Linked DNA regions of Homo sapiens: region 1 is linked to region 2. Evidence: fine-mapped expression QTL. Tissue or cell type: prostate. Region 2 holds a variant in brackets; the other region holds the start of a gene. All regions are shown on one strand. Distances are from middle to middle.

Region 1 (5,127 bases), 470 kb after region 2:
GCCCCCACCTCACACCTCCCTGCCCAGGACCCAGGAGCCTGGCCCAGCCCAGCCTCACCAACACAGGAGCGGTTGTTAGGCCCCAGCTGGAAGCCCGGCTCGCACTGGCAGCGGAAGGAGCCAGGCAGGTTCACGCAGCGGTGCTGGCAGTAGCGGTAGCGGCACTCGTCTATGTCTAGGGATAGAGGCAGGAGAAGGAGGGCGGAGGGCAGAGGGCAGAGGGCAGGTGGGCTCGAGCCGGCTGGGACTCAAGGCTTCACCACCCATAATCCTGTGTCCGAGGAGCTGAATTAGGCAGGGTCAGCCAGGACACCTCCCAAACACTCCCCGCTACAGTCCTCTGTGTCTGATGACGGAGGGTGAGGTGGCAGGGGCCGGGGGTGAAGCCTGGCTTGAATGGGGGTCAGGTGCTAGGGCAAGGGCCAGACCAGGGACACAAAGCCGGGACTACAGAAGCTGCTTCCTGGACTCACCCACACACTCGGGCCCGATCTTGCGGTAACCATCAGGGCAGGTGCACTGATAGGAGCCAGGCAAGTTATGGCAGTCCTGGCTGGGGCGACAGTCGTGCAGGGCCTGGGCACACTCGTCCACATCTGCGAGAGACACCACTCAGCCCCTGCCTGGGATCCCGCACACCACCCAACATGACAGATAGTTCCAACACTTGTATTCGGTTCTCTCAACAGCACGCGTAAGAGTTCACCAGCCTGGAGCCATCAGGAAAGGCACCCCTAACCTCTAAAACCACATGTTGGGGGTTGCACAGGAAATAAGGTCCTGTCCAAACATCCCCAGCAACACTGATTCCTGGACTGTCCTTCCTCCAAGGCCTGTGGCTCCCAGGGGACAGACACTGGAAGGCAGACTTCCTGCAGTGTCTCTGCAGCAACCGAGGGGAGGGGCCCGGAGCTGGCTGGAGCAGTGGCACACAAGCTGGGGCCACCTGCGGCAGGTCCTAAACAACATGAGTGTCTGGATGAGGGTGTGGACATCACCAGTGGCCCTTTTGAGCTGGGGAGGAACATGAGGTCTGAGTTTAAGACGCCTGGTGAGAGGACTGGAAGCCAGGCACCAGAGCAGTCCCCACTCACCCACACAGCTGTCCTGATCGTCGGGCTCATAGCCTGGTGGGCAGGGGTTGGGGTGTTGAGCGGGAGGCACTGGTGGCGGGGGTCCCTCGCCGTGTAGGTCGTTGATGACGGCAGCGGAGCGGGGCAGGCACAAGTAGCCCCCGTAGTGGTTGATGCACTTCATTTCCCCCTTGCAGGCCTCAGGGATGGTCAGACACTCGTTGACATCTGCAGAGAGGGGCCTGCTGGGCACAGCCAGTCTCCTGGGCTGGCCCTGGAGGGAGCGGAGGCAGGAACCCAGCTCGGCCTTCTCTGAGATGTGTGGCCCCAGCAAAGCCTTCCCACTCTGCTCAACAAGCTAAGTCTGCCTGCTCAGGACCCCTCCCCAGGGTTGGCCAAGGCTGGAGATGGGGCAGCTGTTCCCACTGTTGCCCTCATTCTCGGCCTGCAAGTGGGTCTCTATCCCTCCCCACGGCCCTAGCCCTAGCTCAGCCCAAGATGGGGGGCCTCCTTACCCACCCCTGGGGACGCTACCCTCCCAGGTTGTGATGAGACAAAGAGCTGGGACAGGAGAGTGGTTCAGAGAAGGCGTACAGGATCCAGCTCCTCTGAGGGGTAGGGACAAGGTTTCCTGGGTTTCTGGGAGAGGATGAGGCCACCCCTAGCTCAACTGGCCTCCAGAGAGCCAGAGCTGGCCTCTGTGTAGCAGAGCTGGGCATAGAACGGGCTGCTGGGCTCCCACGGCAGTTCTTGGAGGTGGGGCTGTCCCTTGGAAAGCAGCTATCAATCCCTTTCCGGGTTCCTGGGGGTGTTTGGTCCCCCAGGCACACACACCCCGGCAGTGCTGGCTGTCTGGGTCCCACTCATAGCCATCTGTGCATTCCTGGAAGGGAACCAGAAGTGGCCAGTGGTCACCCTAAGATCTCCTCCAACTGGCCAGGCCAAGACTAGGGCCTGAGCCTGGCCACCCTCCGGCCTGCTCCAAACAATGGCCCCCAGCTCTCCACCAGCCAGGGGAGGAAGACTTCCCCGGCAGCAGTCACCCTGGGTCCCGGTCTCTTCCTCCCTACCCTTCCTGTCCCAGGCCAGCGGCCCTCACTGTCCCCACCGTGTAGCTGTCGGGCTCTTCAGAATCCTGAGGAGAAGCTGATCCCAAGAGCAACAGTAGCAGCGCCCAGAGCAGTAGAGACCCGGGTAGGCAGGAGGCGCAGGGGAGCATCCTGGGGCTGCGAGATGGTGGACACGGGTCAGGGGCCTCTGCCCGCGGCACCTCAACTCCCTGTACCGGGAGCCCGAGCCCAGCCCCCGCCACTGCCCGCTCAGGACCGTGCTTGGGCCTCGGGGCCTCCCAGGGCTGGGGGCCGACTCCTCACAGGCCCAGGTCCCAGGCCCGGGTCCCAGGCCCACCCGCCCCGGCCACCCCGCCCCCGCCCCGCGCCCCTGCGGCGAAGGCCGAGGAGCGCGGGCCTCTGTGGGCGCTACGCTGCCGCGGACTCGGCCGAGACTCCGGCCCACGCCCTCCCCCACGGACGGTCACAGCCACTCACTTGGGCCCGCGACACCCCCGCGGCCCGCGGCTCTGGCGGCTCGGCTGGCTCGGGCAATGCCTGCGGGCAGACGGACGGGCGGACGGCACAGCTCCCTGGACGCGCGGCCCCAGGAAGCGCCCCCCGCCCGCCCGCCTGCCGCGGCGCGGCCCACCCCGGCGCCTCCGCCCGCCCTTCGGCGGATTCCTGAGCCAGCGCCAGGGGGAGGGACCCCGACCCCCCGCTTCTCCGCCCCCGGCCAGCCACAGGCCCCTACCCGGTCCCCCGCGGCGCCGCCAGGAGCCGCCTCCCGGCGCCGGACCAGGGTCCCCCAGTGCTCGATCCTGGGGCCCCGACCTTGATGCCAGGCCCCCAGACTCACCCGGGGGCCCCCAGACGCTCACCAAAAATGTCATCCTGCTCACCTAGGTCCTACCTAATCTGCGCCCCCAGAATTTCATCCTGTGCACCCACACCGTAATCCTGGAGCCCCCAGATTCTCATTGTGCGCCTCCCGAGATCGTCCTGGGTACCTAGAGCCCACCTAACCCAGTCCTCCAGACCCTCAATCTGCTCCCTGCAAAATTTTATTCTCTGCCCCAGACCGTCATTGTAAAAGATCCTAAAACTTCATCCAGGGTCCCCAGACCCTCGCCCAGGAACGAGAGGCTCCCAGGAGCAGAACTGTCCTTCTCGCTCCCTCCTGCCCTCCACCCCCAGGACCGTCTTCAGCCGGGTGGTCCTTTCACTACACACGGCCTCCCCCACACCCTCCATCCACAAAGCTACAAGTTTGGGGGCGAGGGCGGCAGTTCCCTTTTGGCACAAAATGAATGGAAGCCCCTGAGAAGGAGGGCAGGGCTGATGTCGGACGTGCGGGATGCCAGAGTCGGGTGCCAAGGCGCCTCCTCGACCTCCTCGCACCAGCGTCCCCCGCCCGGTTTCCGCCTCCGCCCGAAGTGGGGGCGTGTCCTTGGGGCGGAGTATGGGCGGGGCTGGCTCCCAGGAAGGGCGTGGCCTCTGTTTGCCCACGTCTTTGGGCGGGGCCAGGCGGGAAAGCACTGCGTGTCCGGGGATCCCCCGCCTGGGGCCCGCCCTTCCTTTCCCCTTGCCATCCCTGCTTATCCCCGCAGTCGCCCTCCACGTGACCCCGGGGAGGGAGTCTGCCGAGGAGGGGACGTGCTGGTGGGTCCCGCGGCGAGCGCCTGGGGCTCAGGTGAACTGCGCAGTGCCCGCTCCTCGCCACTCTGCCACCACCATCCCTCCCAGCTGCTGGGGCAGAAGGTTAAATAATAGCTCTTTAGGGGCCGGACGCGGTGGCTCAAGCCTGTAATCCCAGCACTTTGAGAGGCCGAGGCAGGTGGATCACCTGAGGTCAGGAGTTCGAGACCAGTCTGGACAACATGGTGAAACCCCGTCTCTACTAAAAATATAAAAATTAGCCAGGCGTGGTGGCGCGTGCCTGTAGTCGCAGCTACTCAGGAGCCTGAGGCAGGAGAATCACCTGAACTCGGGAGGTGGAGGTTGCAGAGAGCCCAGATCACACTGCTGCACTCCATGGGTGACAGAGGGAGACTCCATCTTAAAATAATAATAATAATAATAGGCCCGACGCGGTGGCTCACGCCTGTAACCCCAACACTTTGGGAGGCCAAGGTGGGCAGATCACAAGGTCAGGAGTTCAAGACCAGCCTGGCCAACATGGTGAAACCCTGTCTTTACAAAAACACAAAGAAATTAGCTGGTGTAGTGGCACGTGCCTCTAATCCCAGCTACTCGGGAGTCTGAGGCAGAATAATCTCTTAAACCCGGGAGGCAGTTGTTGCAATGAGCCGAGATTGTGCCATTGCACTCCAGCCTGGGCGACAGAGCGAGACTCCATCTCAAAAATAGTAATAATAATAATAGCTCTTTAAAACGAGAAAGACAGTAACAAGTGTTGGCAAAGATACGGAGAAACTGGAGCCCTCATGCACTGTTGGTGGACAATGGTCTGGCAGTTCCTCAAAATGTTATCACATGACCTGACAATTTCACTCCTAGGTATACATACCTAGGATAATTGAAAAGATATGTACACACACACAAATCTGTACGCAGCGTTTATAGCTGCACTATATATAAGAGCCAAATGCAGAAACAACACAAAAGCCGTCAACTGATGAATAACAAGATGCAGTACATCCACACAGTCGAACATTATTCAGCCATAAAAACTAATGAAGTACTGATGCATGCCACAATATAGGTGAATTCTTTTTTTTTTTTTTTTTTTTAATTGAGACGGAGTCTTGCTCTGTCGCCCAGGCTGGAGTGCAGTGGCGCCATCTCGGCTCACTGCCAGCTCCGCTTCCTGGGTTCACGCCATTCTCCTGCCTCAGCCTCCTGAGTAGCTGGGACTACAGGCACCCGCCACCAGGCCCGGCTAATTTTTTGTATTTTTAGTAGAGATGGGGTTTCACCGTGTTAGCCAGGATGGTCTCAATCTCCTGACCTTGTGATCCGCCTACCTTGGCCTCCCAAAGTGC
Region 2 (5,270 bases):
CCTGTGTCTGCCTTTTTTCTTTTTTTCTTTTTTTTTGAGATGGAGTCTCACTCTGTCGCCCAGGCTGGAGTGCAATGGCGCGATTTCAGCTCACTGCAACCTCCGCCTCCTAGGTTCAAGCGATTCTCTCACCTCAGCCTCCTGAGTAGCTGGGATTACAGGAGCCTGCCATCACACCCAGCTAATTTTTGTATTTTTAGTAGAGATGGGTTTTCACCATGTTGGCCAGGCTGGTCTCAAACTCCTGACCTCAGGTGATCCACCCGCCTCGGCCTCCCAAAGTGTTGGGATTACAGGCGTGAGCCACGGCACCTGGCCTGGCCTGGGACTTTCTATGTGGACAGTCGTGTGGTCTGTGAGTTGGGACAGCTGGGTCTCACTTTCCAATCTGTGTGCCTCTTGCTTGCCTTGCCTGACAGTGCTTCTGACCCCCAGTGTAGGATGGATAGGTGTGCGCAGGCGTCCCTGACGCACCTGGCCTGAGAGAGAACATTGTCTTTCACTGAATAAGTGGGATTTTGCTGTGGGTTCTTCAGAGATGCGCTTCATCAGGTTGAGGAAGTTCCTTTCTGACGCTGGCTTGCTGAGTTTTATCTTGGACAGATGTTCAGCAGAGCTTCCTCTTTTGGCTGCATTTGAACGGCAGGCTTCCTGAGCCTCAGAGGCATGTTGCTGTGCAGGAGTTTTTGTTCTAGGAAACTTAGTAGGCTTCCCTGTTATGGTTGCACTCAGGACTCTGTCCCCACCGGCTGCCGTCCCCTCGCCAGCCCACTGCCCTTTGGCTGGTGGAGTCCACTTGGTGAGGAGAGGAGTGTGGGTGGACTGAGCTGAGGGCAGGGAGCGTGGAGAGCCCACCAGGCCTCTGCTCTTCCTTCTGGGCCGAGCAGCGGTGCCCACCTGCCCAGCCCAGAGGGATTGTAGCTGCCCTGTGGAGAGGCAGGAGCCAGGCCAGTCTCCGCAGGGCCACTCCAGCATCTGACCCAGCCCCACCAGTCAGGAGCACAGGTGGCCATTCCTGTCTACTTGGCCTCATCTTATCCCAGGCCTGCAGCAGTGCTTGGCACGTGGGAGGCACTCAGGAAATACCTGTGTCCTAAGGGGTGCCACCCTTTTAACACCCTCTGCGACTCCCTCAAACCCCTGAAGGCCCTGTCCTTGGTGCCCAGCTGTGCCCGCTGGCACCCGGCTGCTGCATCTTTTCTGTCAGTGTGCCTCATGCTTCACACCTGTTGAGTAGGAGTCACTTTTGAAGAACGTGCTGGCAGGGAGCCGCCCGCCCCTGCCCTGGTGACATCGCGCCCCTTCCTCCTGGCTGCAGGTTTTCCTCCCAGCCAGCACCACCCGCCTCCCCGCCCCGCTTCCCCACTCTTCGTCCTCTCTGCAGCAGCTGGCTCCCTACCCCCTCCCTCCCCACCTGCTTCTGCCCATGGAGTCAGCCTTCCTGGGCTGTGCCTTCTGACCAGAATGTTCTTTCTTTCCCACCTGAACTCCCAGATCTGGAGACCCCTCCTCATCCACCAGGACTCACCTTCACAGTCACCCAAGTGGGACACCTCCCCTGCCTCCCTGCTCCCTCCCTCCTGAGTGATGTGTGTCCCCTCCCCTGCTTCCCCAACCAGAGAGCAGAGCTCATTTCAGGCTCAGCAACAGGCATGGAAGGGGGCCCTGGCCAGGCCTCACACTGCCCCCTCCTCCCCAGGCCGAACTGATGAGCAGTCTCATTGAGTACTGCATCGAACTGAGCCAGGCGGCGGAGCCCGCAGGCCCCCAGGACAGTGCGACTGGCTCGCCCTCGGACCCCAGCTCCTCACTGGCTCCTGTTCAGCGCCCCAAGCTGCGGAGGCAGGGCAGTGTGGTGTCCAGCCGGATCCAGCATCTCTCCACCATCGACTACGTGGAGGACGGTGAGCAGCCCTTCTGTGCATGTGCACACACAAACACGCATGCGCGTGCACACACCGGGGGGAGTTCCTGAGGACAGGGCATTGCAGAGCAGCTCCAGACCCAGTGTGAGCTGGCCTCCATCTCAGGACACAGCTGTGAGCAGGCCGAGCCCGGGCCTTGGCCATAGTGCCTTTCCTGTCCCTTCTCACTGCTGCGTCACAGACGTTCTGCAGCATTGTCCAGGATGTGATCCGGGAAACGACTCAACATCTGTTACTGAAGTGTTGGGTAGGTGGGGCGCGGTGGCTCACGCCTGTAATCCCAGCACTTTGGGAGGCCAAGGCAGGAGGATCACCTGAGGTCAGGAGTTCAAGAACAGGCTGGCCAACATGGTGAAACCCTGTCTCTACTAAAAATACAAAAAAAGTAGCGAGGTGTATGGCAGGCGCCTGTAATCCCAGCTACTCGGGAGGCTGAGGCAGGAAAAACGCTTGAACCCAGCAGGCAGAGGTTGCAGTGAGCCGAGATTGCATCATTGCATTCCAGCCTGGGAGACAGAGCAAGACTCCGTCTCAAAAATAAATAAATAAATAAATAAAGCGTTGGGTAAATCACTGCTGTGACCACATCTTGGGGTGTTGAGTGCAGCTGGTAAAAATACAGTACCCAGGCCGGGTGCAGTGTCTCACACCTGTAATCCCAGTACTTTGGGAGACCAAGACAAAGAGGATCACTTGAGCCCAGGAGCTCAAGACCAGCCTGGACAACAGAGTGAGACCCTGTCTCTACAAAATATACTTAAACTTAGCTGAGCACGGTGGTATATGCCTGTAGTCTCACCTTCTTGGGAGGCTGATGAGGCAGGAGTATCTCTGAGCCCAGGAGTTGGAGGTTTGCAGTGAGCTACGATTGTACCACTGCACTCCAGCCTGGGTGACAACGATGAGACCCTATATATATAT[A/T]TTTTTTTTAATTAATTAATTAGTTAACTATTTTTGAGACGGAGTCTCACTCTGTCGCCCAGGCTGGAGTACAGTGGCATGATCTCGGCTCACTGCAACCTCCGCCTCCCCAGTTCTAGTGATTCTCCTGCCTCAACCTCCCGAGTAGCTGGGACTACAGGTGTGTGCCACCACACCCGGCTAATTTTTTTTTTTTTTTTTGAGACAGAGTCTCACTCTGTCGCCCAGGCTGGAGTGCAGTGGGCGCGATCTTGGCTCACTGCAAGCTCCACCTCCTGGGTTCACGCCATTCTCCTGCCTCAGCCTCCTAAGTAGCTGGAACTACAGGCGCCCACCACCACGCCCGGCTACTTTTTTGTATTTGTAGTAGAGACGGGGTTTCACCGTGTTAGCCAGGATGGTCTCGATCTCCTGACCTTGTGGTCCATCCGCCTTGGCCTCCCAAAGTGCTGGGATTACAGGTGTGAGCCACTGCACCCGGCCCTAATTTTTTGTTTTTAGTAGAGATGGGGTTTCACCGTGTTAGCCAGGATGGTCTCAATTTCCTGTCCTCGTGATCCACCTGCCTTGGCCTCCCAAAGTGCTGGGATTACAGGCGTGAAACATCACACCAAGCCCGAGACCCTGTTTTTAAAAAGGAATACCCTGGCCGGGCGCAGTGGCTCACGCCTGTAATCCTAGCACATTGGGAGACCAAGGCGGGTGGATCACCTGAGGTCGGGAGTTCGAGACCAGTCTGACCAACATGGAGAAAACTCTTCTCTACTAAAAATACAAAATTAGCTGGATGTGGTGGTGGTCGCCTGTAGTCCCAGCTACTTGGGAGGCTGAAAGCAGGAGAATCGCTTGTACCCAGGAGGTGGAGGTTGCAGTGAGCCAAAATCACGCCACTGCACTCCAGCCTGGGCAACAAGAACGAAACTCCGTCTCAAATAAATAAATAAATAAATAAATAATAAAAAGGAATACCCTAAATGCATCTTGTGTCAGATCCTGGAAGAGAGGACATTTGTGGAAAAACTATTGAAGTCCAAAAGAATTTTAGTTAACAGATACTGTGTCAGTGTTCATTCCTTAGCTCTGATGTGGTGACAGAACATGCTGTCATCGGGAGAAGTTGTGGCGGTATTCTGGAACTCTCTACACCTTTACAGCTTTCCTAGAAATCTAGAATTATTCCATGATAAAAAGTTTTTTAATGCAGTAACAAAGATCTACATTTATTTATTTATTTATTTATTTATTTATTTATTTATTTAGAGACAGAGTCTCGCTCTGTCACCCAGGCTGGAGTGCAATGGTGTGATCTTGGCTCACTGCAACCTCCGCACCCTGGGTTCAAGCGATTCTCCTGCCTCAGCCTCCCTAGTAGCTGGGATTACAGGGGTGAGCTACCACGCCCAACTAAGTTTTGTATATTTAGTAGAGACGGGGTTTCGCCATGTTGGCCAGGCTGGTCTCAAACTCCTGACCTCAAGTGATCTGCTCACCTTGGACTACCAAAGTGCTGGGATTACAGTGTGAGCCACCGCACCCGGCCAGAGATCTACATTTTACATGGCAAGATGTTCACAAAATAATATTCAGTAAAAAGAAATGGCCAGGCGTGGTGGCTCACGCCTGTAATCCCAGCACTTTGGGAGGCCAAGGTGGGCAGATCACGAGGTCAGGAGATCGAGACCATCCTGGCTAACAGGTGAAACCCTGTCTCTACTAAAAATACAAAAAGAAAAAAAATTAGCCAGACGTGGTGGTGGGTGCCTGTAGTCCCAGCTACTCGGGAGAATGGCGTGAACCTGGGAGGCGGAGCTTGCAGTGAGCGGAGATCGCGCCACTGCACTCCAGCCTGGGCGACAGAGCGAGACTCTGTCTCAAAAAAAAAAAAAAAAGGAAATGAGTAACAGGACAGCATGTGTGCAGCCATGCGCATGAGGAGGGCGGGCCCAGCTGTGGCCGTCAGCGGCTGTAGCTTTGACTTTTTCTTTGTACTTCTTGGAGCACGTAAATCTGTTACAATGAACATGTCATTTTTATAGTCTTGTAATTTTTAGAATAATTGTTTTTTCTTTTTTTTTTTTTTGGAGACGGAGTTTCACTCTTGTTGCCCAGGCTGGAGTGAAATGGTGCGATATCGGCTCACCGCAACCTCCACCTCCCGGGTTCAAGCGATTCTCCTGCCTCAGGCTCCCAAGTATCTGGGATTACAGGCTTGCACCACCACGCCCAGCTAATTTTGTATTTTTAGTAGAGACGGAGTTTCTCCATGTTGGTCAGGCTGGTCTCCAACTCCCGACCTCAGGTGATCCGCCCGCCTTGGCCTCCCAAAGTGCTGGGATTACAGTCGTGAGCCACCGCGCCCAGCCCTAGAATAAGTTTTATAATCAGAAAAAGCAAACTTTTTCTACAATGTAATTTGGACCACTG

Evidence for each region. PIP is the estimated chance that this variant, and not a neighbour inherited with it, causes the effect.
Region 1: it holds the start of EFEMP2, and the variant in region 2 is fine-mapped to the expression of EFEMP2 in prostate (GTEx, PIP 0.98).

What each region holds. Positions count from the first base shown.
Region 1 is chr11:65,870,063-65,875,189 of GRCh38, forward strand. It overlaps EFEMP2 (EGF containing fibulin extracellular matrix protein 2), which reads right to left and starts at 2,738. Exons shown (of 11, transcript NM_016938.5): 1 at 2,621-2,738; 2 at 2,182-2,299; 3 at 1,908-1,956; 4 at 1,095-1,301; 5 at 474-596; 6 at 59-175. The coding sequence starts at 2,292. RefSeq lists a silencer at 3,741-3,800.
Region 2 is chr11:65,403,165-65,408,434 of GRCh38, forward strand. It overlaps FRMD8 (FERM domain containing 8), which reads left to right. Exons shown (of 11, transcript NM_031904.5): 10 at 1,700-1,904. Among named protein-coding and RNA genes, the nearest start is that of NEAT1, 17 kb to the right of the region's middle. RefSeq lists an enhancer at 1,084-1,583. The variant A/T (reference allele first, on the strand shown) is at 2,847.